Homo sapiens: one gene and its partners. The protein of the gene in region 1 interacts with the protein of each later gene in a pairwise test. Each region holds a gene or a part of one and is shown in the gene's direction. Other genes may lie near its edges.

Region 1 (5,792 bases):
TTTTTCTGAGACAGAGTCTCACTCTCTTGCCCAGGGTGGAGTGCAGTGGCACGATCTTGGCTCACTGCAACCTCCGCCTCCTGGGTTCAAGCGATCCTCCCATGTTCAAGCAATCCTCCACCTCAGTCTCCCAAGTAGCTGGGAGTACAAGCGTGCGCCACCATGCCCAGCTAAGTTTTGTATTTTTAGTAGAGACGGGGTTTCGCCATGTTGGCCAAGCTGGTCTCGAACTCCTGACCTCAGGTGATCCACCTGCCTTGGCCTCCCAAAATGCTGGGATTACAGGCGTGAGCCACCATGCCTGGTCGCATGTTCTCATAAGTCGGAGCTAAGCTATGGGTACACAAAGGCATGTAGACTAGTATAATGGACATTGGAGACTCATAATGGGCGAGGATGAGAGTGGGGAGAGATTTAAAAACTACATATTGGGAAGAATGTACACTACTCAGGTGATGGGTGCACTAAAATTTCAGACTTTGCCATTATACAATTCATCCATGTAACCCCAAACCGCTAGTACTCCTAAAGCTATTGAAAGAGAAAAGAAAAAAATTCTCATCACCATTAATGGAACAGACAAATAACATATGCCCCTGGTACGATGTACTGAGAATCACACACTCTGGTGGTCTTCTTGCAAAAAAAATTTCACCTGAATCTAATCCCGAGGGAACAGTCAAACAAATACATCTTGAAAGATGTTCTGCAAAACTGGCCTGAACTCTTTTTTTTTTTTTTTTTTTTTTTTTTGGAGACGGAGCCTTGCTCAGTCGCACAGGCTGGAGTGCAGTGGTGCAATCTCGGCTCACTGCAAGCTCCGCCTCCTGGGTTCACACCATTCTCCTGCCTCAGCCTCCCGAGTAGCTGGGACTATAAGCGCCCGCCACCACGCCCGGCTAATTTTTTTGTATTTTTAGTAGAGACGGGGTTTCACCGTGTTAGCCAGGATGGTCTCAATCTCCTGACCTTGTGTTCTGCCCACTTCGGCCTCCCAAAGTGCTGGGATTACAGGCGTGAGCCACCGCACCCGGCCAAAACTAGCCTGAACTCTTAAAAATGCCAATGTCCAGCAAGACCGAAACAAAATAAAAGACTCAGCAACAGCTCCAAATTTAAAGATGCTAAAGAAGCATGACGGCTAAATGCAATGTGTGATCCTTGATTCAATCTTGGATCAAAAGAAAAAAACAGCTATAAATAATATTATTAAAAGACTTGGTGAAATTTGAATATGGATTACGTGTTAGATGATAATATGGGGCCAATGTTAAATTTCCTGAGTATGGTCATTGTACTGTGGTTATGGAAGAGCATGTACTTGTTCTTTGGAGATATGTGCTGAAGGGCTAAATTGTTGCTATATCTACAAGAAACTCTCAATGTTTCAGCAAAAAGAAACAAGCAAATAAATAAATATGTGTGTCTGTATATCAAAATAGATAAAGCAAATGTGGTGAAGTGTTAACAATAGAACTATAGGTGAAGGGTAAACAGATGCTCATTGTTCTGTTCTTGCAGCTTTTATGTAGGTTTGATATTTTTCAAAACACAAACTTGGACACTATAAATAATAAGTAATAAAAACAAAAAGACTTTTCCCAGTCACGTTTTCTATTAAGCCTTCCATGACATACACCTACTGCCCCTGGCCCCCAAACACTCACCTAAAACAATGAATCATACCCTCTCTTCTGGACTCTTCCAAGGTTATCTATCTCTCTGACCAAAGTATAAGCTCTTGGAAATCAGGCCCTGTATTGTGATGGATCTACACTGCTAGGACCATACCTGACACAGATTGGATGCTCAGTTGATCCCGTTTTTAAATTAATCAAGCTGAGTCTTGAAGCTCGGATAGAATTCAGGAAGCAGAGAGGAGTCAGGCTTCTCAAGAGAGAGGAATGGCATGAGCAAAGGTAAGGAAACAGGAATGTACATTTTGTATTTACCAAAAGCGTTTGCTTTGTTTGGTCAGAACTGAGGGTTTATATAGGTGAAAATGCCTAACACACTATAGATTCTTAATAAAAATCTGATGAATAAATGAATGAATGAGATTTGAAAGGCAGGCTTAGATTAGAAAGGGCTTTGACTACTGAATTGAGAAATTTGAACATTAACTAGTTCTTAACATCCAGGGTGTTTTCCCAGCGGTGGAAAGAGAGTGTGTTATTGGGCAAGTCCATTGCACATTTTCTTCACTAAATAACAAGGAAAATTGCCTCCATCAGTGTGTTAAAAAAAAAAAAAAAAAAAAGGAAAAGTAGAGACAAGTGGGATCTGAAAGTGACCTGCTTCCAAACTCAAGGGGAGAAAACGTTATCTATCCAGGAAAAGCTCCATAGCGGAATTTTAAAACATCCAACATCCCTCAGACTAACAGGTGTCACAGAATATGAAGAATAAATAAATGAATCTATTTAACACGGGTCATGCTTGTCTTTGAAAATAGTGTCTGAGGCCGGGCGCGGTGGCTCATGCCTGTTATCCCTGCACTTTGGGAGGCCGAGGTGGGTGGGTCACCTGAGGTCGAGAGTTTGAGACCAGCCTGGCCAACATGGTGAAACCTCGTCTCTACTAAAAATACAAAAAATTAGCTGGGCATGGTGGCGCGAGCCTGTAATCCCAGCTACTCATGAGACTGAGGCAGGAGAATGGCTTGAACCTGGGAGGCGGAGGTTGTGGTGAACCAAGATCGCGCCACTGCACTCCAGCCTGGGCAACAAGAGCAAAACTCCGTCTCAAAAAAAATAAAAATAAAAAAAAGAAAAGAAAATAGTGTCTGAAATTATTTTGTTAATTGTACTTAGTTTTAAAGTTTAAGAAGTGTATACTTATGAAATAAGTAGACTCCAATACTAGTTTAGGGCCTCCACATTACTACATAGATTACAAAGCTTCTCCGTTAGCCCAGCTGAGCTGCCCCCAACAAACAGTTTTCATATTTATTTAGTATTCGTGTTCTATTTTCTTCCAGATAGCTTTGTGGGGACTGACAATTTAAGTAATGCAAAATAATTTGATTATGACAACTGAGAAAAGAAACGTGTGTTGTGTTTTGAGGTTATCATTTCCTTGACCATCATAAGCAGCCTGGTATCTATTTCATCTTTGTTCGTAATCACAGCACACCTTTGAACACATACCAAAATGATGATGGAATGAGAGCAAAGTATGTGAGTCAATTGGCTACTCTGTGAAACAATTTGTTAGTTTTAGGCTATAGTTCTTTTCAATTTTCAGCCAAATTCTATAAAAATCTTAGCTGGAAGGAAATGCAAATGTCAGGTTACATTTTAGAAATTAATTTTTGGGCTGAGTGCTGTGGCTCGTGCATGTAATCCCAGCACTTTGGGAGGCCGAGGCCGGTGGATCACCTGAGGTCAGGAGTTTGAGACCAGCCTGGCCAACATGGTGAAATCCTGTCTCTACTAAAAATACAAGAATTCGCCAGGTGTGGTGGTGCGTTCCTGTAATCCCAGCTACTCGGTAGGCTAAGGCACAAGAATCACTTGAACCCAGGAAGCAGAGGCCTGGGACTCTCCAGCCTGGGTGACAGAGCAAAACTGTCTCAATTTTTGGCCCAATTACCATGTAGCATTAACTTGTTTCAGAATGTTTAATATTACTGGGAAGACAGCATCGGTAGTGGTCAAAGTGATTTGTAGTTCACAAAGCATGTAGGCATTTTTTTTTGAAGAAAGTAAACAAAATAATTTGAACTGTTGTTTCAGGTAATAAAATAGACTCATGCGGTAAGTCATTTGAGCTGTATGTACAAATGGACTATGACACAGCTAAATTAGTCACAACTGTCCACCACAGGCCAACTTCAAGATAAAGGGCTATATATCAGTTAGCAATGCTCTCTTACAACCAGCCCTGATGTGTTTGTAAGCAGGAAAATAATTTTATGGTTACAATCAACAAAGAAGTATCAGGCCAGTCCACCAAGCCCAGCCAAATCCCATATCTCGCTCCAGTTTTATAGAGATTAGCATATCACATGAGCCAAATGCTGTTCCCCAACTTAGAATGTGATATTGCTATTTTGCAGGGAAAGTGTAAGCCCTGTTCTGCAACACTGATGAAATAGAAGTATTCATAGATCTTGTTTAACGTGGTCCAATAATTGAAACATAAAATAGATATCTTGTAACAGAACATTTTTAAAAGTCAAGAAAGATAAGAATTAGGCCTTGGAAAATAAATGACTATGAAGAAAGATAAAAAGAAAAGAGACTGGGGTGTCTCTGAAGACCCTGCTTAGAGGCCCTGTCCTCCTTGCGGCAAGCGGCCATTGCCATGGAAACCGGAGCCGCAGGGCTATCTGTCCGGGATTGTGACGCCCAGATGGGAGTGGTGAGAGGAGACAGAAAGAGGGTGGTGGCCGATAGCTGGTCCTCTTTCTCCAACACCTAGCCTGAGACTTGGCGGCGCGGCTGCTATCCTGAACTAGCTTGGTAAGTGTTGTGTCCCGAACCAGCGTAGAGAGACCTCGGACCAGCCGCCTTGATGACAGCATCCGCGTCCTCCTTTTCATCATCTCAGGGTGTCCAGCAGCCCTCCATCTACAGCTTCTCCCAAATAACCAGAAGCTTGTTTCTCAGCAATGGTGTGGCCGCCAACGACAAACTCCTTCTGTCCAGCAATCGCATCACCGCCATTGTCAATGCCTCGGTGGAAGTGGTCAACGTATTCTTCGAGGGCATTCAGTACATAAAGGTGCCTGTTACCGATGCTCGTGACTCGCGTCTCTACGACTTTTTTGACCCCATTGCTGATCTTATCCACACCATCGATATGAGGCAGGGCCGTACGCTGCTGCACTGCATGGCTGGAGTGAGCCGTTCCGCCTCACTGTGCCTTGCGTACCTCATGAAATACCACTCCATGTCGCTGCTGGACGCCCATACATGGACCAAGTCGCGCCGCCCCATCATCCGGCCCAACAACGGCTTTTGGGAACAGCTCATCAATTACGAATTCAAGCTGTTTAATAACAACACCGTGCGCATGATCAACTCGCCGGTAGGTAACATCCCTGACATCTATGAGAAGGACCTACGTATGATGATATCAATGTAAGCCATCCCGGCCAGCCCCTGACATCTGCCATCGATCTTGCACCAAGACTGAACTTGAACACTGACATTTTGTTAGTAAAGAAAACCGGATGGTGCCTTGTTAAAGGGCAAGAAAAAAGGGAGGGGGTTGGAGTTTTGAACGTAGTAAGCCTTACCTTAATAGAATTAAATTCATGAAACATAAGATAGTGAAAATATTTTTTATATTGTGAGGTCAAGCTATTGGGGCCTGGCTGGAACCAGGGTGGGGCAAGTAATGCTCAGCTCACATAGACCTGCCAGCAGCACCCAATACATGTGGCAGACCTGGAATCCTGAGCCCTGCCAGAGGCTGACTAACCCAGGAGTGAATCCCCTAGAATCTCACCCGGTTCTTTCCAACCCAAAGTCAAAGCCTTAGACATCTTGGCATCCCTTGCACTTCTCCCAGTAAGTGCCAACCTAGTGGATAAGTGGCTTTCATTCAAGCTGTGCTCCAGGAGCTCTGGAGGAGTCTCAGGCTACCCTTGCCCACCTTCAATCACAGTGGCCCATCTCTGGTTTTCTAGATCGGATTTATACATTAGTTAAAAAAAAAAAAACTAGTTTTTTAAAAGACCATTCCACTCCATAAAGTTTAAAAATATTGTATTTTTTTGACTGCTGTACTTGATGGCAAGTTCTCAAGGTGTCTTTGGTGATCTCCCACCGGCCTTTGTGAAA
Region 2 (7,603 bases), on another chromosome or scaffold:
TATTTCACTTGACATGATGTTTTTAAGGTTCATACATATTGAAGCATGTATCATTGCTTCACTGTTTTGTTTCGTTTTATTTTTTTGAAACAAAATCTTGCTCTGTTGCCCAGGCTAGAGTGCAGTGGCTGCGATCTCAGCTCAGCCACCTGAGTAGCTGGGATTACAGACATGCACCACCATGCCCAGCTAATTTTTGTATTTTTCAGTAGAGATGGGGTTTTGACATGTTGCCCGGGCTGGTCCCAAACTCCTGAGCTCAAGCAATCCGTCAGCCTCAGCTTCACTGTTTTTTAATGACTGCATAATATTCCCTTGTATGGATATACCACATTGCGTTTATGTATAGAACAGCTGATGAACATTTTGGTTGTGTTGACTTTTTAACTTTTATGCATAATGTTGCTATAAACATTTTTACACAAGCTTTGTGTATGAATTTATGTTTCAATTCTCTTGAGTATCTACCTAGGAACAGAATTACTGGATCATATGTTTAACTTTTTGAGGAACTGTGAAACTATTTTCCACAGTGGTGGTATCATTTTACATTCCTACCAGCAATGTATGAAGGTCCCAATTTCTCCACAACCTCATTATCATTTTTAAAAAATTATAGTGGGTGTGAAGTGATACCTTATTGTGGTTTTGATTTGCATTTTCCTAATGAAAATGATATTGAGCATTTTATGTGCTTATTAGCCATTTATATATCTTATCTGGAGAAATGTCTATTTAAATCTTTTACATGTTTTTAAATTGGGCTATTGTCTTTTGATTGTTGAGTTGTAAGAGTTCTTTATATATTCTGATGGACGATTTTAAAATATTTGTCCATTGTGTGTTGTCTTTTCATTTTCTTGATAGTGTTTTTTGATGCACGCATTTTGGTGGAGTTCAGTTTATCTACCTTTTTTCTTTTATTGCTTGTACTTTTTGTATCACATTCAATAAACCTTTGCCTAATCCCAGGTGATAAAGACTTAAGGCAAGGTTTTAGTCCAAGAGTTGTACAGTTTTAGCTCTTATATTTAGGTCTTTGAACCATTTTTATTTTTGTATATAGTGTGAAGTAGGGTTCCAAACTCATTCTTTTAGATGTGGTTATATAATTGAAAAGGCTATATATCTTTTTCCACTGAATGGTGTTAGTACCTTTATCAAAAAATGGTATTTATTGCTTCGTGTATTTTGGGGCTCTGCTGTTAGGTTCATAACCTCACTTTACTTTTATTTGAAAGAAACAAAATGAAATTCATTAACAGAAAGCAAAGTACTTGCCGTATTTATAAAATAATTTTGGTGAACAGAAAAACAAATTAGGAGAGACATGAACTTTCACAGAAGAAAATTTCATAGTATATGATCACTCCAGATAATACTATGCCCAGAAATAATCTAGGCAAGGAGATGTTCCTCAAAATTCTTCTGCAGTGAAAGAGAGAAATTTTTTTTCCTTGCTTATGTGAACTAAAAGAGATCTAAAGTTTCAGAATAAAAAGATTAGATATGTTTTATTGAAGGCTTACTCTGTTTCAGGCACTGGACTAGTTTCTTCTTTATAATGTTTCATTTGATGCTTATATCAACTCTATAATGTGATGTCTTATGTCAGCAGGACTTGAGTCAAGTATTTTTCTACAAAAGCAATTTAAAGAAAGTGTTGCCAGGAGAAACAGGAAAGGGAGTAGGGGTAGCAGGACAGAGGAGGGCAAGAAGCCAACACAGATGGGATTTTAGGAATGGTCTAGTGGGAGATGGTTTCAGTCCGATCCCATAGAGGAGCTCTGGTTGTAAGTTGTACCTCAGATTTATCCAACATGAGATCAAGGTTCTCAACCATCAGTCATTGGCTAAGTGCTACTCAGGGGCACCTAGGCTCTATCTGCCTATGGGCAATGGTGGTCTGGTAGCTAAGGGCAGTTCCTCCAAAGAAAAGTCCCAGGAGCTCTCAGGTGGTGGTCTTGGGGCTGGTATTGGAAACCAAAGGAGGCAAAAACAGGGTGAGGGGTGCTCAGAAAATGTGGAAGAAATCCAAGGGGATCTGAGCAGAACACCCACAAAATCTACTATAGATATGTACTATTTTTTTCCAATTTTGAGAGAAGGAAACAGGCACAGAAAGGTTAAATGCCCAGAAGCACAAAGAGAATGAGTGCAAATGTACCTGACTCCAAATTCCTTTTCCTTTCCCCTTTACTCTTGTGCCTCCAGTCATGAAGACCCTGTAATTTGGGAACTTCAAAGAATCTTCTTTCAGACATCATGTGTTTTTATTTTTTTCCTTAAAACAGAATAAACTTTTTCAGGTTTTTTTACTTACAGTCTGTTAAACTGTAAGCAGAAATTTTTACATTAGCGTATTCATGGGCATTTTTCCCCCTGGGAGACAGTTGATAGCTTACAAAAATTTCTTAAAGAGTATATAAAAAATAAACATCTTACAAATCACTATTTTAAAAGATCATTCTCCATTTTTACCTATTTTCCTGCCTAGAGCTGCTTTTCTAAAACACTAGTCTCATGAGCTCAGATTAGTTATAATAATTACAAATAGCAAATTTAGAATATTGACAGCTTTTCCCCTCCTCTGCTTTCACCACATACCATACGTTTGAGAAGAACTGGCATTTATTCTTCTTTAAACGTTTGGTATAAATCACTCATGAAGCTATCTCATCATGTGTTTTCTTTATGTTGGAAGTTTTTTTATTACTGATTAAATTTATTTACTTGCTATAGGCCTATTTAGACTTCCTATTTTTGAATAGAAGCACAAATAACTTTCACATTATTTTGTTAGGCAAACAGATTTACTTAAAATTAAGGCAAAAAGTTCACTTAGGGCCTTAACTGATCGTGGTTTTTGTTTCCAATGATCTGTTCAATTGGATAATTGCCAGATTTTCACGTAGTGTCTGTATGACTTACACACACACACACACACACACACACACAAACACATTATCATATGGTTAGTATTTTAAAAAAGAAATTCCAGTAATTTTCCTGAACATTTTTCTTCTTATCATTTCATATAAGTAGACACAGTTAATCACTGGGACTCCCTTTACAGAATGAATCTGAGGGTATCTCTGTAAAGAGGCAACATTCTAAACTTTAGTACTGTACATACAGCTAAGCCCTCTGGTCTGAGCAGGCTCTGAGGCTTTCGGAGGACTGGGTAGAGAAAACTGGCAAAGTTGTCCTGAAGCACTGGAGGGGTATACCCACTTTAGGAGTGTGGAGGGGTGGGTAGCCCCATCCTGGATCTAGCTGCTGGAGGTACCAGATAAGGTGAAAACCTTTGACAAAGAGTTGCTGCCTTTCCCAACAAGTGGTACTAAAAATGGGGAGATTCAAATCCACTCATAATTTTAGCTGCTTTTGCTGTATTACTTAGACTGTATCGCTCCTTCCCATAATTCACCCTTCAGCCACCCACCACCTTGGATCCCATTTTGTTTGTTCTATGTTAAATTTCAATGTAATGTAGTTTAATATTGTCAAAGTCGAAGGCTGATTTCTCTCTCTAATGCTGCAAGAGAAGATGACATGCTGTAGGTTGTGATGAGGCAATGTGATCCAAAGCAGAATCCTTGCTTTTGTTGGAGAGCACTGGACATATAAAGACACTGGGCGTATTTGTCAAAAGAACAGAAGGTGGAAGGAAAGGAAGATGATCTGGCAGTCAGGTAACACCAATCCCAAGTCTCCACTGACCGCTCCCGTCTAAAGAGAGCACAGATTATAGTTTGCCCCCATGAGATTGCCATTTTGGGTTGGAAGATGGTCGCAATTTCATTTTTCACTTAAGCAAACGTCCGTTGCCGTACTGCTAGGTATGAGATGAGTAATCGTCAGGGACGCGTTTAAATTACAAAATAATGGTAAATGGGAGAGAAAGAATCTTTTCTCGGGGTTGAGGCCAGATCCTCCAGGGCTGGGAGACCCAGGAGTGCGGGCCACTGTGCACCCTCGAGCAAAGCAGTGTGTGACGAGATGGGATCTTCCCTCAAATGCTGAGAAGAGCCCTCGCCAATCCCTCGGAAGGTTCCCAGAATAAAAAGCCCGGTCCCTGCTGTGCAAAGACTGAGCGGTACTCCGGTGTACTTTTTCCCTGTCCCAGGCGTGCAGAGTCCACGCCGCGCGGCCAGGTGCCCCAATAGTGTACCTGAAAGTAGGGATGGGGCCAGTTACAGCTGCACTTTCCCTGCAGAAGACAGTGAGCCTTCCCGGGATCTTTCTGGGAGCTCTGAGTGTGAAAACGGTCCTCCGGCCAGCGCAGGTTGAGAGAACGGGAAGGAGGGGGAAGCTGTGGGCGCCCAGGGCGTGACAGGCGCAGGTGAGAAAGTGAGTTTCGCGGGAGCATCTGCCGGGACCGCAGACAGGTGGAGAAACGCAGTCCCACCGCGGCCCACCGCGGCTCCCGGGCGGCCTGGGCTGTACCTGTGCGCGGCGTCCTTTCTGCGCTGAGCCAGGGCACCCCGGAGCCTGCGGCCTCCTTCCCCGCCCCTGCGGCCCCGGGTCCCAGCCCCGCCCCGCCCCGCCCCGGGCTGGGGCTCCGCTGGGGAACCGGCCGAGCGGCGCGCGCGGAGGTGTCCGGCGGCCAGGAGGATGGCCAAGGTCCCGGAGCTGGAAGACACCTTCCTGCAGGCGCAGCCTGCGCCCCAACTGTCCCCGGGGATCCAGGAAGACTGCTGTGTGCAGCTCCTGGGCAAGGGCTTGCTAGTCTATCCGGAAGAAACAGTGTACCTGGCGGCCGAAGGGCAGCCCGGGGGCGAGCAGGGCGGCGGGGAGAAAGGCGAAGACCCGGAGCTGCCGGGGGCAGTGAAATCAGGTGAGTGCTCTGCCGCATCCGGAGCTGGGAAGGGGACGGGGACGTATTCTAAGAAGGGCACCCAATAATAATAATGCATCCCGAACAAACATAAGGCAGATATAGAATGTTCTGTCCAAATCTTTGTATTTCCTCAGTAAAATGTCAAGTAGAGACCTGACATTTTGCATAGCCCCCCTTTCCTCCCCTCCGCCCCCACCCCAGTAGGCTACTCCTTTGAAGTTAAGGTACACTTAAAGGCGACTTAGTTGATTTTATATTCTATTTTTCTTTATCATCCCTTCAACTGGCAATCAGAAATGCACTTAAACAATGGTAACTTTTCCTCTGAAGAAGAGGACGCCGACAACCACGACAGCAAAACCAAAGCAGCGGATCAATACCTGTCTCAGAAGAAAACCATCACGCAGATTGTGAAGGATAAAAAGAAGCAGACACAGCTCACGCTGCAGTGGTGAGACTCGCCCGCAGGGTACACTGAAGCACCTGTTGACGTTTTAACAGCCAGCGTCTTCAGGATCTTTGATTTTCACAATTTACTTCTTCCTCAAACTTTTTGGGAAAGTTTAAAAAACCAATTAGAATTTAACCCAGAATTTTTTTCACTGAATTTTTAGTATAGAGACTTATACAAGTACTGGTGAAGGATTTGCAATACAAATGAAAACCACATTACGTTGTTCCTTATTGACTAAAACCATATTTTCTTCAAATGTAAGCATTAATGAACGTTTTTATGACTTACTGGCTTAATATGCAATCAGTTCAGTCCTTACATATTTGTTGTTTGATAGTTTTTGAGATTATAAAATATGATTCTTAAAAACAACTTAAAATGAGGAAGGATCTTAACACTGCCTTTATTCAAAAGAGGGCAAATTAAAAATAGTGTATACTCCATAAGATGAACTGTGTTTGAGGTAGAAGACATAGAAAAAATCGGTTAAGATATCTATACTAACTTAAATAGAAGTTCAACTATTTTTATACCATCTATCATATATGATTTATAATAATAAAATATTACAAATTGGATTTTGTGGAAAATCTTTTAAAACCAAGAATTTATCAGTAGGATTTCCACATAGAGTGAACATTTTGTAATATCTATCTAAAAGAAAGACGGCTCTAAAGTAAAAGCATTATATTAAACTTTCCTACGTAGTGGGAAGAAATAGGAGCATAAATTTCCTCACAAATTCCAAGTAAAAAACAAACTAATAAAAAGGACTATATATTTACTGATTAGTTACATAACCTAATTTTGTGTAAAGTATGATCTAAGGAGCCTTAGAAAAATACAAGATAAAGAACTAGTAAATTTTATTTTTATTATTTATTTAAATATTAAATTACAATTTACATATAGTAGTTTTTTGTGATTATATGCTTGAACCCTTTCAAAATATTTGAAATATAAGCCAAATATTCATCTAAAGTTGGAGTTTAACTATTGAAGTTGATGTCGTGGTTACTAGTTAAGAATATACTAGAGCAGTTAAGTAATTGAGTTAAATATCTGGGATATTTAGGATACAACTATTTGCAGCAGGATAACTGGGGCAAAAGTGTTTTGATTTCAGATATATTATTGAGCTGTTTCGAATGATTACTCCATTTTTTCCATTTAAATTGAGTGTGTGGAAATATATGTTTCTTTTATGAATAAATGTATACATAAATATATATAAGTTAAGATCAAAGAAAAAACTTGTACCCCAAATGAACATCATACTTATGTCTAGGATGATTTAATATTTTGAAGACAAAGACAATGCCGACTACAACAGTATCAAAATAGCAAGATGAAATGTGAACATTGTGTACATGTAATTAAAATATAATTTTTAAATAGATAAACTAGAACTGAAAATCAAAGTGAAAAAGCTGGCTGATTAATTCCAGTTTTCACTATCAACTAGTATGTCAACTGATTTTATGTACATATATTGATTTCATATTTTGAAACACTAGATCTTAGTTTTTGGTCTTTTTTTGTTCTTCATTAAAAAAATGAGTGATATTTTACCTGTTCAGGGAATACTTTCTTTAGCCTTTATCTTGTACACATTAGGATATTTTAAATCAAATCTTTGAAGGGTTTCATCCAATTTTAATCTGCAGACTCTATATTGCATCGTTTCTGCATTATAATAAATATTATCTTACTATACATAAAATTGGTATAAGTAAATTTTAGTCAAAATCACCTACTGAACTGTTAGGAAAACTGGGATTGGAATCTAAAAGTTTAATTTCTACATTGCTGTTTAGAAAGTTGTAACACAAATATGTATTTATTACATTTATATAAGTTATGCTTAGTTACAAATTAAATGGAATTACTTCAAATTTTCAAAGGTTATATAGTTATTTTTATAATATAAAGTTGAAGGTATATATGTTATGTTTGGAGATATCTATAGAGAATTACATTATCTTTTAAGTGTATAGGATGTTTTAGATAATTATAGTACTGATGACAGTAGTAAAAAGTATAGGAATAGAAATATATCAGTGTCATTTCAGACTTAAGTAAAATGAGTTTATCCTCATGTGTTTTGCAAATAAATGCATCATTGTCCTTCCCTAATTATTCAGGGCTGAGAAATAGGTTTTGAATGAAAGTGAGAGAATGTAAGCATTTGCCAACCTGAAGCTTGACAGCCCTTTAGTACTAAGAATGTTTTAAAAAATACCCATCATCTTCAATTTCACCATTCATATTTATATGTCACAGAGCAAATCATGATGAACCATGAG
Region 3 (7,474 bases), on another chromosome or scaffold:
GCTGAAGTGAGAGGATCACCTGAGCTCGGGAGGTCGAGGCTGCAGTGAACTGTGATGGCGCCACTACAGTTCAGCCTAGGCGACAGAACGAAACTGTCTCAAAAGAAAAAAAAGAAAGGGGGTTGGCAGGGGAAGCGCTCCACCAACGGGAGGGCTCCAGGGAAGATGGGCAGGTGCTTTCTGAACTGAAAACTGTGATGCAAACTTGCACTTGAAGTAAGAGCACTGAAGCCCCAGATGACAGTCTGACTTCACCTCTTCCCAGCTGAGATGACCCTGTGCAGGTCACAGCCCTCCTTGAACCTCAGTTTCCCCACAGGCTTGTTACAGGTGGCATAAAGCTCTAGTGTCTCACAAAAGGTTATCATTAGTAGTAGTATTTTTTTTTTTGCACTTTAAAAGCAAGTGCAAAGATTAATCTCAAAAGCAAGGGGAGCTTGCCTGAAGCAAACCCTACTTGAGAATATATATTTTTTTCATCTAAGTTGGGGTTTCTGGCTCTCTGGGAATGCTCTGGAGCTTCCAAGGCCATCTGAAGACCCTCTGCAACTCAGTCCCCACGCTGACCTTTCTCCTGGGGAGGAGATCCTGCATCCCATTCTCACATTCTGGAGAACAGACCTTGCATAGGTCAGAGCCCTTTGAAAAATCAAACCAATTCTGCCCTTTAGAAATGGATCTTTTTTTTTTTTTTTTTTTTGAGACAGAGCCTCACTCTGTCACCCAGACTGGAATGCAGCGGCATGATCTTGGCTCACTGCAACCTCCGCCTCCCAGGCTCAAGCAGTTCTCCTGCCTCAGCCTACCAAGTAGCTGGGTTTACAGGTGCGCACCACTAATGCCCAGCTAATTTTTGTATTTTTAGTAGAGATGGGATTTCACCATGTTGGCCAGGCTGGTCTTGAACTCCCGACCTCAAATGATCCACCTGCCTGGGCCTCCCAAAGTGCTGAGATTACAGATGTGAGCCACCACACCCGGCCAGAAATGGATCTCTTGATTGACAAAACAACCTGAGCAAAGGCTCCCAAACACAATTGCAACCTGAGAAGCAGGAAGGAAAGGCACCACCTACAGTTTCTGAGAAACACATGGAGAGGGTATTGACATCACCAGAGTGGGGAAAACCTCTTGAAATGTTCGTGGTGTGTCCTTCCACTTGTTTCCTGGTGCCCTGAGACCTTTCCCCTGTTCAGGGCAGGGAGCATGCAGTCCCTGTGGCCACAAGGAAGGGCAGTTTCAACAGAAGCAGAAACAAGGCTCTTGACTTTCAAGAGCCTGGGTTTTTGATAAAGTGGTAGTGACAGAGAACAAACAGGTGGTTGCCAGCAGATGAAGGCAGGGTGTGGCTGTAAAGGGACCCATGAGAGTGCCTTTGGGGGGATGGAACTGTTCTTTACCCTGATTATGATGGTGGCTGACTATACATGTGGTAAGACTCAAAGGACCATACCACTAAAAGAAGTCAATTTTACTGTAAGTTTTTTTGTTTTTATAGTCTTGGCTTTTGACTTGTTAAACTCAGGGCATAGGAGAGTCTGAGAACAGCATACACACAATGAAGTTGAAGCAAATCTTCCTGCCCACAAAACTAGAAAATGCCCTATGTTGGGTTGGTGAAGTGTGAGGGTCCAGGAGAACTGGAAGGAGCATAGTTCTGGTGGGTTCTGATGGTGCCTCCGTCCCTTGCTGCTCCCAGGCAGACCTGAGCATGGGATGAAGGGAACAGAATCCCAGGCACATGTATGGGATCCAGGGACAGAGGGCGTCTGTGTCCACACTCCCTCCCAGAGCCAGAAGAGGGCATGAGACCCCAGGGAGAGAAGGGTAAAGGGAGGGTCTAGGTGGATCCAGGCAGGAGGGCTTGGGCAGCCCCTCACAGTCCTGTATCAGGCCCAAGGAACTGGCGAACAGCAGAACAATTCTGTGTCTTACAAACGAGTTGAAAGTAAATGCTAAATCCAAAGGGACCTTTCACCAGGAGGGAAGTACAGTGTCTCTGCAATCTAGGGGCAGATGGCACATGGCTGTCTCCTATATTGCCAGCCAAAAATAGGGACAGGCAGCCTCCTTGGTACAAACAAAGCCCCTAGCACAGACATGAAACCCCAGGGGGAAATTGGGACATTTCTGTTCCTGAGCAAAATGGCATTTGAAATGGTAAAGTATAGATAAATCAGAAAGATGTGTGGACGCCTGAGTTTATGAACTGTGATTCATACCAGCTCCCCAGACATCATCTCCCCATAGCCCTGTGAGGCAGATTTTATGCTCCCCATTTTACAGGTGAGGAAACTGAATGAAGTTCAGGGAACTGGACTGACTTGCCCAGGGTCGTAGGATTTGAACCAGGGCTGTTTGAGCCCAAATTCACCCACTTTCTGCTGCAATACAGACACAGCCTCCCGGCCTCAAACCAGAGGGTGTAAGCTTTCATTAACTGGCTGCACAAACTCTACTAATTCCTTGCCTTATCTGCCTCAGTTTCCCCACAAGGATAGTAGCAACCTGACCCAACCCACAAGAGTTATACGATGGGACCACTGTGAGGATGATTGCCATGTACAAGATGTGGGCAGAGTCCAGCAAGTACCTTGAATGGATAATTAAGTTCAAAGCCATGGCCCCAAACCCTTGGGGGCACCACCCAGACTCTGGAGAGCAGTGGAGCAGGCCAGTGAAGGCCTAGTGTGAGGGAGGCAGTGTGGCCCACTGATTAGCAGGGACTCAGACAGACACAGAGGGTGGCAGGGTCAATTGACTCCAACACTCACTCGCTGTGTGTCCCCAGGAAGCAGTCACCCTTTCTGATCCTCAGCCTCCTCATCCAATGTATGAGAGACAACAATACCAACCACTCCTGAAGAAGATGAGGTTCAAATATGGAGAGCACCTGGCATGCAGTCAGTGCTTAATAAAAGCACATTTATTCCTTCTCTCTCCACTTTTGCTTATAAGGTGTTAGGTTTTGCAGGGTAAGAGCTGCGCTCACTGGTCCAGGACCTTGGCCTTCCTGTGTCTTCACTTTTTCATCTGCTGAACAGACTCCAAGGGCCCCAGTGGTGGGGATAAATAAATGCCTGATTACTCCATTTAGGGAAAGGTAGAAGAAAGGGTAGGATAGAGACCAGGATGCCAAAGGATCCCTCAGGCCTGGGAACCTGGAAAGACTTTTCCAGGACCTAAAAGAGAAGCGGCGGGGCACTGTGGCTCACGCCTGTAATCCCAGCACTTTGGGAGGCTGAGATAGGTGGATCACCTGAGGTCAGGAGTTCGAGGACAGCCTGGCCAACATGGTGAAACCCCATCTCTACTAAAAATACAAAAACTTTGCCAGGCATGGTGGCGCTCGCCTGTAGTCCCAGCTGCTCAGGAGGCTGAGGCAGGAGAATCACTTGAACCCGGGAGGTGGAGGTTGTCATGAGCTGAGATCACACCACTGCACTCTAGCCTGGGCGACAGAGTAAGACTGTCTCAAAAAATAAAATAAAATAAAAATTAAGTGAAAATTTAAAAAATAAAAAGGGACGCATGAAAGTGTAAAGTTCACAGGTGGGGAAATCAAAATGGCCAGCAAGTGTTGGGAGGCACCTTCATCTCTCAGTGCAGTGATTCGGGGAAAGGACCTGAATGTGGATGTCTCACCCCAGGCAAGCACTGCATCTCTGGACAACTTGCCTCACACTCAGCCTCAGTTTCCCCCTTATAGAATAGGAGTACAGGGTTGTGAGGATTTTGTGAGATGCTGCCTGTGAACACCATGGCAGGCCAGGCATACAGCAGGAGCTCGGCCAGTGTCTGCTGTTGGCGTTGTTTTTGTTGTTTTCATTCTCCAGTCAGTTGCATTCTAACTCTGCTGCATCCTCTCTGGGTCTTTCAGCACTTGTCCCCACTGGATCTCAGTTTCCTCCTCTATAAAAGAGGAGGAGTCACCTCTCCCTCTCAGGGTTCTTGTGAGGACAGAGAGCTCCTGACGTGCAATAGGGGCTCTGAAAACAGGAGACCCTTGCCCTGGAATGGAGACGCACCCCAGATGTAGGATGCAGTGTGACTCTTTTGACATTTTAGGAGAAAGAATCCTCCAACTGGAGCAAAAAAATTAGAGCAGGAGAGGAAAGGGGCCAAGAGATGAGACTGAGGTCCCTTCCTGGGCTCTGTCTGGCTGCTCCTTTCAATGCTCCAAGCTACCTTGGGAGCGTGGGTCCCCAACCTTGGCTCCGCTCAGGAAACCATAAAGTCTTGAGTAACATCCCATCTCAGGTTTTTCTCTGTTTATCTTGTTGACCAAATAGCTTAACTGTCTCACCTGCTAATGTGATTGGCAATTATTTACTTTGGAGAGCCCTGAAAGACACTGTCAGATTGCAGAATTCTCAATTATCTAGAAACCCATCACCCAACACATGCTTCCTCGTCCCCATACTATAAAAGAGGCTGACTCCTCGGCAGAAGTGAGTGGGGGAGAGAGAGGAGACCAGGACAGCTGCTGAGACCTCTAAGAAGTCCAGGTAAGAGCCATCCATTCTGTGGCCCCTCTGCTACCCTTAACGGCAGGGATCTCAGGCTCCTGCCCTGTGGGGCAGTGAGTGATCTTGATCACTCACTGGGGGCTGTGCAAGAGAAACAGACCTGGCCAATGTCAGGGATGTGGGGATGGCCATTTGCTCTGCTGTCCTAAGAGACCAGTAACATTGATATAGAAATGGGCACTATTAATGCCGTAAATGAAAGCCTCTAAGGCATAAGTTTTAGCTTGAGGTTACCAATGTGGATACAGATGATCCAAAAACCTCCTAAAATTCTTCACCCAATTTTATACATTTTGATGCATTTTTTCTGAGACTAGGATCTTTAGCTTCCATTGGATTCATAAAGGGTCTGTTGCCCAAAAGAGATTCAGAGGCTGTGGTCAAAGTTACCTCCCTAAGAAGGGCACAACTGGCTCTTTGGACCAAAGACCTTTCATTTCCAGCCTTCCACCACAAGGATGGAGCTTTAGCTGAGTCAGCCAATAGATGGAATTTTGCACAAAGTCACCAGTTGTCTCCAAATTGTAGGTACTAGTGCTGGCTCTGGACAACTCTGCTGGCTGCCAAATAGACCTGTGAGAGGTCTGCAAGCCAAACCTCAGGGGTTGACCGGAATTCCATCCAGGGCAGCTTGAAGGAGAAGAGAAAGGTGTCAAAATGATAGAATGCATGTTTGTGTGTTGGGTGAGGGGAGGGTTGGGAGACCTGCCTTCAACCACAGCTCTGCCATCAATTTATTGTATGACCTTGGGAAAGTCACTACCCCTCTTTGGTCTCCTGGTTCTTCTCATGCAATGAAGACTTTGATGGCCCCAGGAATTCCCCAACAAAGGTCTACATGAGATGGTGGCTGTGGCCATGCGACCCCTGTATTGTGTGACTTTCAAGGGCATCCACCAACCATCATGGCCTGAGCTCAGGCCAAAGGACTGAACAGGGATGATCTAAAACAGTTCAATTCTTCAGCACTTGCACGTTTAACCCTTCTCATTTGCTTTGTCTGAAGAGCAGCAATGATTCAAACCATTGAAGCAAGCCCGATTGGAGAATAAATCTGATGGTTACTTAATTTAACCGAGGGTTCACCTGGCTCTAGCTTCTAATCCTCTGTCCACCGTGTACTTGTGACCTTGGGGAAAGTTACCCACACTCGGTAGTACACAAGTGGGTTTCAAGAAGGGATGGGAGTATATTTGAAACTCCCAACTGCAAACTCACTTGACCTCTGTGAGCCTTGGTTTCTCCTACTGGAAAATCAGACAAGTGAACTGTGGGCAAGATGGAGTGAGGTGAGGCTGGGATTCTTGGCAAGAAGGAAAAAAACCCTCTTCTTTGGAATGTGGTGGAGTGGGGCTGTCTCCTTTTTAGGCCCCTGATCAGTGGTCCTCACCTGTGCAATGCAGGTAACAGGTGCCCATGTCTTAGGGTTGTGATGAAGATGAAATTGTGTAAAGTGGTCAGCCTGTTGCCTGGCAAAGAGAAATTGTTCAGCAGTATTAGCTATTACTAGTGACCCCCTGGTGTTCTGGGGAGCAAACAACCCCACCCCCCAGGTGTCAGGGCAGGTGGTGGATAAATTCCTCTCTGATACCCATGCCATGTTGGACTTGTCATTCTGGCCACAGATACTAAGAGCAAAGATGTTTCAAACTGGGGGCCTCATTGTCTTCTACGGGCTGTTAGCCCAGACCATGGCCCAGTTTGGAGGCCTGCCCGTGCCCCTGGACCAGACCCTGCCCTTGAATGTGAATCCAGCCCTGCCCTTGAGTCCCACAGGTCTTGCAGGAAGCTTGACAAATGGTGAGTTTTCAGGGGTGTATGTGTGCATGTGTGTGTGTGTGTGTGTGTGTGTGTGTGTGTGTGTGTGTGTGTGTGTGTGTCCAACCCTGCAAAGTGGGGAGGGACAGGGCTGGATGGGGGAGGGGGCCTGAGGATCTGGAATTGTCAGATCTGACCCCCAGAGACCCTTACACCCATTTCCAGCCCTCAGCAATGGCCTGCTGTCTGGGGGCCTGTTGGGCATTCTGGAAAACCTTCCGCTCCTGGACATCCTGAAGCCTGGAGGAGGTACTTCTGGTGGCCTCCTTGGGGGACTGCTTGGAAAAGTGACGTCAGTGATTCCTGGCCTGAACAACATCATTGAGTGAGTTGTCCTAAAATAGAGCTTTGATCTCCACCAGGGAACCCCAGGTGAAGATCTGCCAGCCCCAGGCAGTGACCCTGAAGCAGCGACCCTGAAGCAGCGAGGGAGCGGCCTGAAGATGGAGCCAGGACTCAGTTCTGAGACCCATCTCCAGTTTGGCAGGGACACCCGTCCTCCCCAAACCAGCAATGCCCTCAGTTCTAGGCATGTCCTGAGGCCCCAGCATCATCTATAATCCTCACCACAACCCTTTGAGGTCGATTTAATAATCTCCAGTTTGCAAATGGGAAAACCAAAGCACAGAGGTGCCTGTGTTCACGCTGCTAGAGTGATGCCAAGTGAGTAAGGCTCTCACTCTACTATCCTAACTCCAAAGCCAAGGCTCTTCCCACTACACTGTGGTCATTTTGTTCTCTGCACCTGTGAAATCCCTTAGAACACAGACGGCCTTTGATGTTAGCGAGAGTATAACCTGCCCACCTTGATGATATCAATGTGATGAAAAACAGTGTGATGTCCATGGAAAGGTCTAACGTGGAGTTTCCCATGAGACACCCAAGAGCTCGCAAAGCAAAAAGCAAGAATGGAAGCTTGATGCCAGTGAGCCGGCAGAGCCTGGTTCCTGGATAGGACTGGATCAAAGCCATTTCCAAAATCCTACCCACCCAGGGTCTCACTCCCTGACTTGGAGACAGACAGACTTCTTGACTTTGATTTTCAAATGTACTTGTTGGATGACCTGGGACAGGACACCCTGTCTCTCTGTGCTTGGTTTCTCCATCTGTAAAATATAGATTATAGA
Region 4 (7,561 bases), on another chromosome or scaffold:
CCTGATGTGAGGTTCAGCCTTGGTTTTGCCAGATCTTGAGGACAGAGATGACATCTGGTTGCAAGCAGTTTGAGAGGGAAGTGGAGAAGCACCTTAAAGGACACAGAAGTCAAAAGAAGTTGGAGCTCTAATGAAAGAGTTGTCAACAGCATCCAGGGCAAGGATGGTGAGAATCAGACAAATCTACTGGTTAAAGCAATGGGGAGACTCCTGGTGATTATAAAGAGAACAGAGTCTGTGGGAGGCTGAGGGAAGAAGCTGTATTTCCATGTTTTTTTCATGTCTGTCTCAAATCACCAACGTGATAGTGAGTGTAATGCAAAAGTTCAACACAACACATTTGTACTCAGCTGACTTTGCTTTATCTTCTGTGTACTGTCAAAAGGTTTTAGCATCTGCCCTCTCCCTTGATCTGCAGAGCAGGACACATATATAGGTTTTCATTCCATCTCTGAGTGGGCCCTGGATCCAGCTTTTTCAGGAAGACTAGCACCATTAAATTACATCGTCCTGGATTGTGTCATGCTCTTGTCTATTCTAGACTGAGTTGATAGTCTAGAGTAGTCAAAAACATAGCATAGATCTCGTGGGAGCTGAATGATGAGAACACGTGGACATATAGAGGGGAACAACACACACTGGAGCCTTCTGGAGGGTAGAGGGTGGGAGGAGGGAGAGGATCAGGAAAAATAACTAATGGGTACTAGGCTTAATACCTGGGTGATGAAATAATCTGTAAAACAAACTCCCATGACACAAGTTTATCTATGTAACAAACCTGCACTTGTATCCCTCAACTTAAAATAAAAGTTAAAAAAAAACACATAGCATAGATGAACTTTGTATTTTTCTGACTTGGCTTGGTCCCTGAAGACTCCAAGACTCCATTCCCATTGGGAGTCCAAGACTGAGTGTAAGAGAAACATGGTGGCTCTGGAGAGGATTTGTAGAACTACCTCCTGAGTTCCATTTTGAGGTGTTTGTATCTGTTTTTGCTCAGCGTAGCTTACTGCTGACCTGGCTCATTCTTCAGCCCCTCTCCTGCTTGTCCCTTATCAGAAGCCCCATTGAACAGGGCCAAACTTGTTGGCTTATTTCCTGAATTACCCCTTCAATTTCTCCTCTCAATGTCCTGAGGCTGGAGGATTGATAAATTGACAACAGTTGCCTTTATGGAACAGTTTGTGGAAGCCCTATCTTCTGCTCTTCTAGGAAGCTCTAACAGGCTGGCCCAAAACCATGGGCTGGGGTTGTTATTGGACAGTCTTTCTGCTTTTCTAATTCCCCTCTGGGATCCCTCTTTGGCAAAAAGTCCATCTTCTTGCTCTGTGTGCATGTAGTGATACTGCTCCTGGCCTCTCCTTCTCATTTGTACATATTAAAATATAATTAATTTTCAAGTAGCCCAATGTAACTTCGTATTTCTAAAAGAATAAATTTTACATTTCTCACGGTGACAATTTCAAGCACCAGAGCCTGGACATTGGAGAAGATGGCTTTGGGAAGAAGGAGGGAGGCCTCCTAATGCCTTTGAAGTCCCACAATGAGGAAGGTGGCCTCAGCAGAAGCCCCATCCTATGTCCACTCCGTGGTTAAGCATCGCTGGTGGGTTGGCATGTGATCTCTTCTATGGAAATAGCCCGGGCTTCCATAATAAATAGCATCCTTAAACCTCAACTGCAATTTGCTCACATCTTAAGACCAGAAGCCTCAACCATAGCATCTGCCGCTATTACATGGGCATGTATAAAACCTTTCGGTTTGTTAGGATTTGACTTACTTGTCATGTTTAATGAAGGGCCATTGAACAGAGACAATAGCATCACCCATGTAAAGATAAGAATTCACAGTACACAGCAAGTGGAGTAAGTAAAAAGCAATTGCCTTCCAGACTTTGTGAGAAGCTAATTGAAACTTGGCTCTTTTCTCCATAGACCCAAGTTCTTCCAACTATTAGTACATAATGGCCAAGTAGCTGTGCAGAAATTATAGTTACTTCTACTCAAGATGTGGGAATAGTTGTGTTTTCTAAACTCTGACCTCCACTTTTAAAGACACAAGGATACTTATCTCTGGATTATTCCACTGTGACTGAGGTAGAAGCTACAGCAATGGTTATAGGGATCCCTGTGGACATATTTACCAGTCTGTGACACACTATTCCTTCCCTTTTCTTTAAAAAGTGCCATTGTCAGATTTTTCCTTTTGAAGCTTGGGACGTAGAAGAAGGAGAGAAGAACACAAGGTAATTAGAGAAAAGCTAATGAATTCAGCTATTTGCTTTATGTTATTTGATCTCATCCAATAGGACTTTAATGGTTTGGTACTGATTTTAAACCAATATGCCCATGCCACATCTCACTGATAGTGGAATCATTTTAAAGGTAGAGATTCAGGCCGGGTGCAGTGGCTCACTCCTGTAATCCCAGCACTTTGGGAGGCTGAGGCGGGTGGATCACCTGAGGTCAGGAGATTGAGACCAGCCTGCCCAACATAGTGAAACCCTGTCTCTACTAAAAATACAAAAATTAGCCAGGCACATTACAGGTGGTGCACGCCTCTAATCCCAGCTACTAGGGAGGGTGAGACAGGAGAATAGCTTGAACCTGGGAGGCGGAGGTTGCAGTGAGCTGAGATTGCACCACTGCACTGTAGCCTGGGCAATAGAGCAATAGAGTGAGACTCTGTCTCCAAAAAAAAAAAAAAAAAAAAAAAATTAGAGATTCAGGCAGGAGGGGCAGAAAGTTGTGGATTGTGATTGTAGGGGAGGATATCAGTACCTTCAATGCATTCACCCTGGAAGACCACATGTTTGCCCCAAAGCTGCTGTCCTTTATAAAAGCATATTTGAAGCTTCTCCTTGGAAATGACTTCCAGAGTCACCCAAGAAAACACACATTATTATTTTGTAGTCACAACCTGTTTCTGACCCATTAAAGATGCTATGCAGCTTGGTTATTCACCCTATGCACTAGGTGTGGTTTCAAATGACTTCTGGCTGGTTCCAAAAATAAACACACCCATAGAAGATGAAGATTGGCCTTCAATGAGGATAACCAAAAGAATGTGTCCCAAGCTGTGAAGGCAAGTTTGAAGGAAGGGTGATCTGAGGAATGGCAGGTCACCTGTAGGAAAAGAATTCTTGTATGGCAAGACTTAATATGTAGCTTCCAAAAGGAACAACTTGGAGGAGTATCTTTCAGAATTTGAGCACTGATAGATTAAACATAAAATCCTCATATTTCATAGTTCCATCTGGAATGCATGAGAGTAGAGCATCTGCTTGCCAAAATGTGCCAATGGTCATAAAATGCCACTTCATGCACATGACATAGTGGTGGATTTTCAGGGTCATATCCTTTGGAGAGCTAGGCTTGGGTATTTCTCCCTCAGATCAACCAAGGGTTTCCTTTTTTTTTTTTTTTCAAGCTTCTAGTGGGTATGAGGCATTTTCACTTAGTAAACTTCCTTCCTTCAGCATAGAAGTGACTTTTGGTTCTTTAATAAGTAAAAAACAGGCTTGTTATTTTTTGGCCCATTCTAATTTAGGATATTGTCAGCACTGATTGAGCTCAATGGAGCTCAATCTGTATTTTTTGCATTATTGCATCTCAGTACTGAAAAGATTGGAAGAGAGAGACATGTAATATGACAGAGTGTGGACATTGGAATTAGAGAGATCTGTATTTGAACCCTGGCTCCATCATGTAGGAGCTCTGTGACCTTGGGAGACCTCTCAGAGGCTTAGGGTCCTTATCTACAAACCCTTGCAGCATTTTGAGAGGACTGAAGGAGCTGGTGCATATGAGGTGCCTGGCACTGTGCCTGGTGCACAGTGGAGGCTCAGCAAGCAGGACCCATCACCAATGACAGAGTCACGCTGTGCACAGGCATGGAGCACAGTGCTTCATGCAGAGTAGGTGCTCCCAAAATTTAGGTTTCTTAATGTTCTGTGAACACTGAATACTAGTAGAAACGGAGGTGGGTGGCTTCCTGCAGCCCCATAGGAAGAGGGTAGAGTTGCCTCCATCTGCCTGGATGGAACTGCAAATGGGCCTTGAACCAATGGCCTTGTAAGTCCTTTCTCATTTCAGCTTCCAGGATTCCCTATCACATAGTCTAGTTTCTAGACGGGTTTCCTTACATGGCTTTTCTCACAGAGTCTTAATTGAATATGAACTGGATGAGACACAAGCCTTTCCTCATTTAGGAGAAAGAGGCACATATGTGCCCCCTACTCTGGGGACAGGGCCCAGCTGTCACTCTAGCTCAATGTCCCATGGATAAGCACTGCTACAGGCAAGGTTGGTCACTTTGAAGCCAAACCATGAAGCTCTTACTTAACCAATCAGCATGTTTTGTGAGGAGTCCTGACTTAGCAAGAAGCCAGAGTAAAACATTTAATGAGGTATAGGACTCAGGTGAAGTGGCTAAATAACAAATGGAAAAATCAGCAAAGGAGGTAAAAAGGAGGAATACTTGACATGGTTGCCACACCCACTGCTAACAGAATATAAAGCCCTGGAAAGGACCAAGGCTTATCCCAGGGAAAAGGAATCAGGTTTTGAAACTGACTTCCAGAGCTCCACTGCCTCCCTGCACCATGCCCTACAACTTCTGCCTGCCCAGCCTGAGCTGCCGCACCAGCTGCTCCTCCCGGCCCTGTGTGCCCCCCAGCTGCCACGGCTACACCCTGCCCGGGGCCTGCAACATCCCTGCCAATGTGAGCAACTGCAACTGGTTCTGCGAGGGCTCCTTCAATGGCAGCGAGAAGGAGACTATGCAGTTCCTGAACGACCGCCTGGCCAGCTACCTGGAGAAGGTGCGTCAGCTGGAGCGGGACAACGCGGAGCTGGAGAACCTCATCCGGGAGCGGTCTCAGCAGCAGGAGCCCTTGCTGTGCCCCAGCTACCAGTCCTACTTCAAGACCATTGAGGAGCTCCAGCAGAAGGTGAGGAGGTGGGCACCACACTGCCAGCTTAATGAACTACTTATCTATATTTGACATACTAAACTGTGAATGGATCTAAGTCTGTTCACAGTAATGCTGAGAATGATAAAGACATAGATTCACTGGCTTAGGTATGACATCAAGTAGTCTTAGAAAATCTGTTGTAGAGCCACAAAGGAAGGATGCAGGCTGGTGTTAGAGTGAAGCATTAGACCAAAATCAGTCATAGCAATCTTATATGGCGTCTTACTCCAAACCAGAATATCTGATTTTTTGGTTTGATTATGATACCCTGGTTTTGTTTTCAGAGCATTACCGCATTTTCAAAAAGTATGCACCTGAATTATTTTCTATGCTAAGAATTTCCTAAGTAAATCTTCAAATATTTAAAGCCTTTCAAAGCTGTAGCAAAATATAGCATTTATGGCAACACAAGAGAGCTGTTGACTCCAGCAATATCTACAGACACATGGACCATCCTCTAGAGCAGCCATGTGTACAGATGACAATATGGGGCCATCTGTTCTGGAAGAGAAGTAGATATAAGTAAAGAGTCCACAGAGAATTGGGACTGAATACCTGGTGTAGGTTTGGGAGGGATCCCAGAAGAGGCAATGTCTGAGTGGGGTTTGAAGGATGAGTGGGAGTTTATATCCAATTGTACAAGCCCTTGATTCTGGGAGGGAATTGACTGCCCACTGTTCTGTAGATCTGGAAAATTAGATGCCAGAAAGGGGTTGTGCTATTTGAATATCATTCATTTATTTACCCAGAGTTGGAGAGTGTTAGGCACAGTGCTGGGGTGGGGGATAATGTACTGAGTAAGACAGTCTCCTTCCTTCAGGAGCTCACAGTCTAACAGGGGAGATAGATGTGGAAACAAAATGATCACACAAAGGTCATAAGAAGTGTTATTGATTAAGTATGTGGGTTACACAAGGGGTCTTGCTAGTGGGTGAGGGCATTCTGGGTACAGCAAGAAGCTTTTTGCAAAGGCATGAACAAGGGCAATATGAGGGGAGAGTGGAGAGAAGTTAGCAGGTGGAATGTGTTGGATAACCAAGTTGTTCTGGCTTGCCTGGGATTTTTCCCATTTTAGCATCCCAGAAACCCCTCAGTCCTAAGTTAACTGGGATGGTTGGTCACCCAACCGAAGGGTTGGATACCCAGTAACCTAATTATTGCAGGAAGCCAGAAGCAGATAAGAATAGAATTCATGATGAATTCACATTGGTTGTCCTGGTTTTGAAATGATCAGTTTTATGATCAAATCCTCCTTTTATCTCAGAGCTGAAAATCTGAAAGGACTCAAAGCTATTTGGGAGGAATGTGGCTGAAAGAAAATAGCATTTCACTTTAAGGCACAAGGCATTTCTTAGTATAACCCATTTCATGATTAATCCTATCCCCAGATCCTGTGCAGCAAGTCTGAGAATGCCAGGCTGGTGGTGCAGATCGACAATGCCAAGCTGGCTGCAGATGACTTCAGAACCAAGTAAGATTTTCCTAACCATCAGAGCAGTCTAGTAACGGACAGGCTGAATTACAAAGTGATGAGCTCCCTATCCTGGAATGTGGAAGCAGAAATTTCTATTGGGAGGATTCTTGCATTGGGTTAGGATTAGGTTAAATGTCAAAGCCTCTTCAATAGGTGCTCAGATTCTGTGTTTTAAGTTTTTTTTTTTAATTTTTTTATTTTGAGATGGAGTCTCCCTCTCTCATCCAGGCTGGAGTGCAGTGATGCAATCTTGGCTCACTGCAACCTCCGCCTCCCGGATTCAAGTGATTTTCCTGCCTCAGCCTTCCTCGTAGCTGGGATTACAGGCATGCGCCAGCAGGCCCAGCTAATTTTTATATTTTTAGTGGAGACCGGGTTTTACCATGTTGGTCAGGCTGGTCTTGAACTCCTGACCTCAAGTGATCCACCCGCCTCAGCCTCCCAAACTGCTGGGATTACAGGCGTGAGCCACTGTGCGCAGCCCTGTGCTTTAAGTTTGATTGTAAGACACCATCCATTCTTACTCCTTTTCAACCCAACGTCTGGAGTAAGTTTGAAAGTGATTTTCACATTGGTCTCTTTGTATACGTTAGTCACTGTCAACCCCCCAAAAAGAAGTTATTAAACCACAAAAACAGGAGGCAAAATCCATTGCCTTTCAGAGAATCAATCAATACTTTTAGGTATGACCATTATTACAATCATGAGAATCCTTTGCATTTTCCTGGGATCTTACATTTTACAACATAATTTTACATATATCATCTTCAGTCCAACCCTATAAGGTGTTAGTTTTGTCTTCATTTTACAGTTAAGGAAATCAAGCCTCAGAGAGATAAAGGTATCTATCTACAGTCATTTAATGAGAATACTGGCTCTAACTCTGAATTCAGTGTTTCTTCCACAACACTAGATTGCTTCTTGGCAAGGCTGGAAAGGATGACAGGACAACCTGGAGCAGGCTTATGAAGGGCACTGATTCACTTGAGATGGCAAAAGCAGCAGGGCTTAGTTGATAGTAACTTGTAAACGAGAGTCTTAGAACAAACTTAGTTTGTGTTAGACTAAACTATCCACAGGCATTCCACCAATACCTTTTCTGTGTGTCTCAG

Evidence for each region.
Region 2: the proteins of DUSP21 (region 1) and RFX6 interact in binary tests that used the Homo sapiens proteins (3 or more experiments, as listed by UniProt).
Region 3: the proteins of DUSP21 (region 1) and BPIFA1 interact in binary tests that used the Homo sapiens proteins (3 or more experiments, as listed by UniProt).
Region 4: the proteins of DUSP21 (region 1) and KRT33B interact in binary tests that used the Homo sapiens proteins (3 or more experiments, as listed by UniProt).

What each region holds. Positions count from the first base shown.
Region 1 is NC_000023.11:44,839,615-44,845,406, forward strand, and holds DUSP21 (dual specificity protein phosphatase 21), read left to right. Parts: upstream 1-4,406; 5' UTR 4,407-4,518; coding exon 4,519-5,091; 3' UTR 5,092-5,274; downstream 5,275-5,792. UniProt on the Homo sapiens protein: Protein phosphatase component of the sperm flagellar doublet microtubules. May act as a regulator of sperm motility by mediating dephosphorylation of sperm doublet microtubule proteins.
Region 2 is NC_000006.12:116,872,659-116,880,261, forward strand, and holds the start of RFX6 (DNA-binding protein RFX6), read left to right. Parts: upstream 1-4,583; 5' UTR 4,584-4,617; coding exon 4,618-4,840; intron 4,841-5,137; coding exon 5,138-5,294; intron 5,295-5,304; exon of another isoform or gene 5,305-5,552; coding exon of another isoform or gene 5,553-5,554; intron 5,555-7,603. UniProt on the Homo sapiens protein: Transcription factor required to direct islet cell differentiation during endocrine pancreas development. Specifically required for the differentiation of 4 of the 5 islet cell types and for the production of insulin.
Region 3 is NC_000020.11:33,231,543-33,239,016, forward strand, and holds the start of BPIFA1 (BPI fold-containing family A member 1 precursor), read left to right. Parts: upstream 1-4,453; 5' UTR 4,454-4,508; intron 4,509-6,154; 5' UTR 6,155-6,169; coding exon 6,170-6,329; intron 6,330-6,512; coding exon 6,513-6,672; intron 6,673-7,474.
Region 4 is NC_000017.11:41,366,793-41,374,353, reverse strand, and holds the start of KRT33B (keratin, type I cuticular Ha3-II), read left to right. Parts: upstream 1-4,540; 5' UTR 4,541-4,603; coding exon 4,604-4,951; intron 4,952-6,363; coding exon 6,364-6,446; intron 6,447-7,561.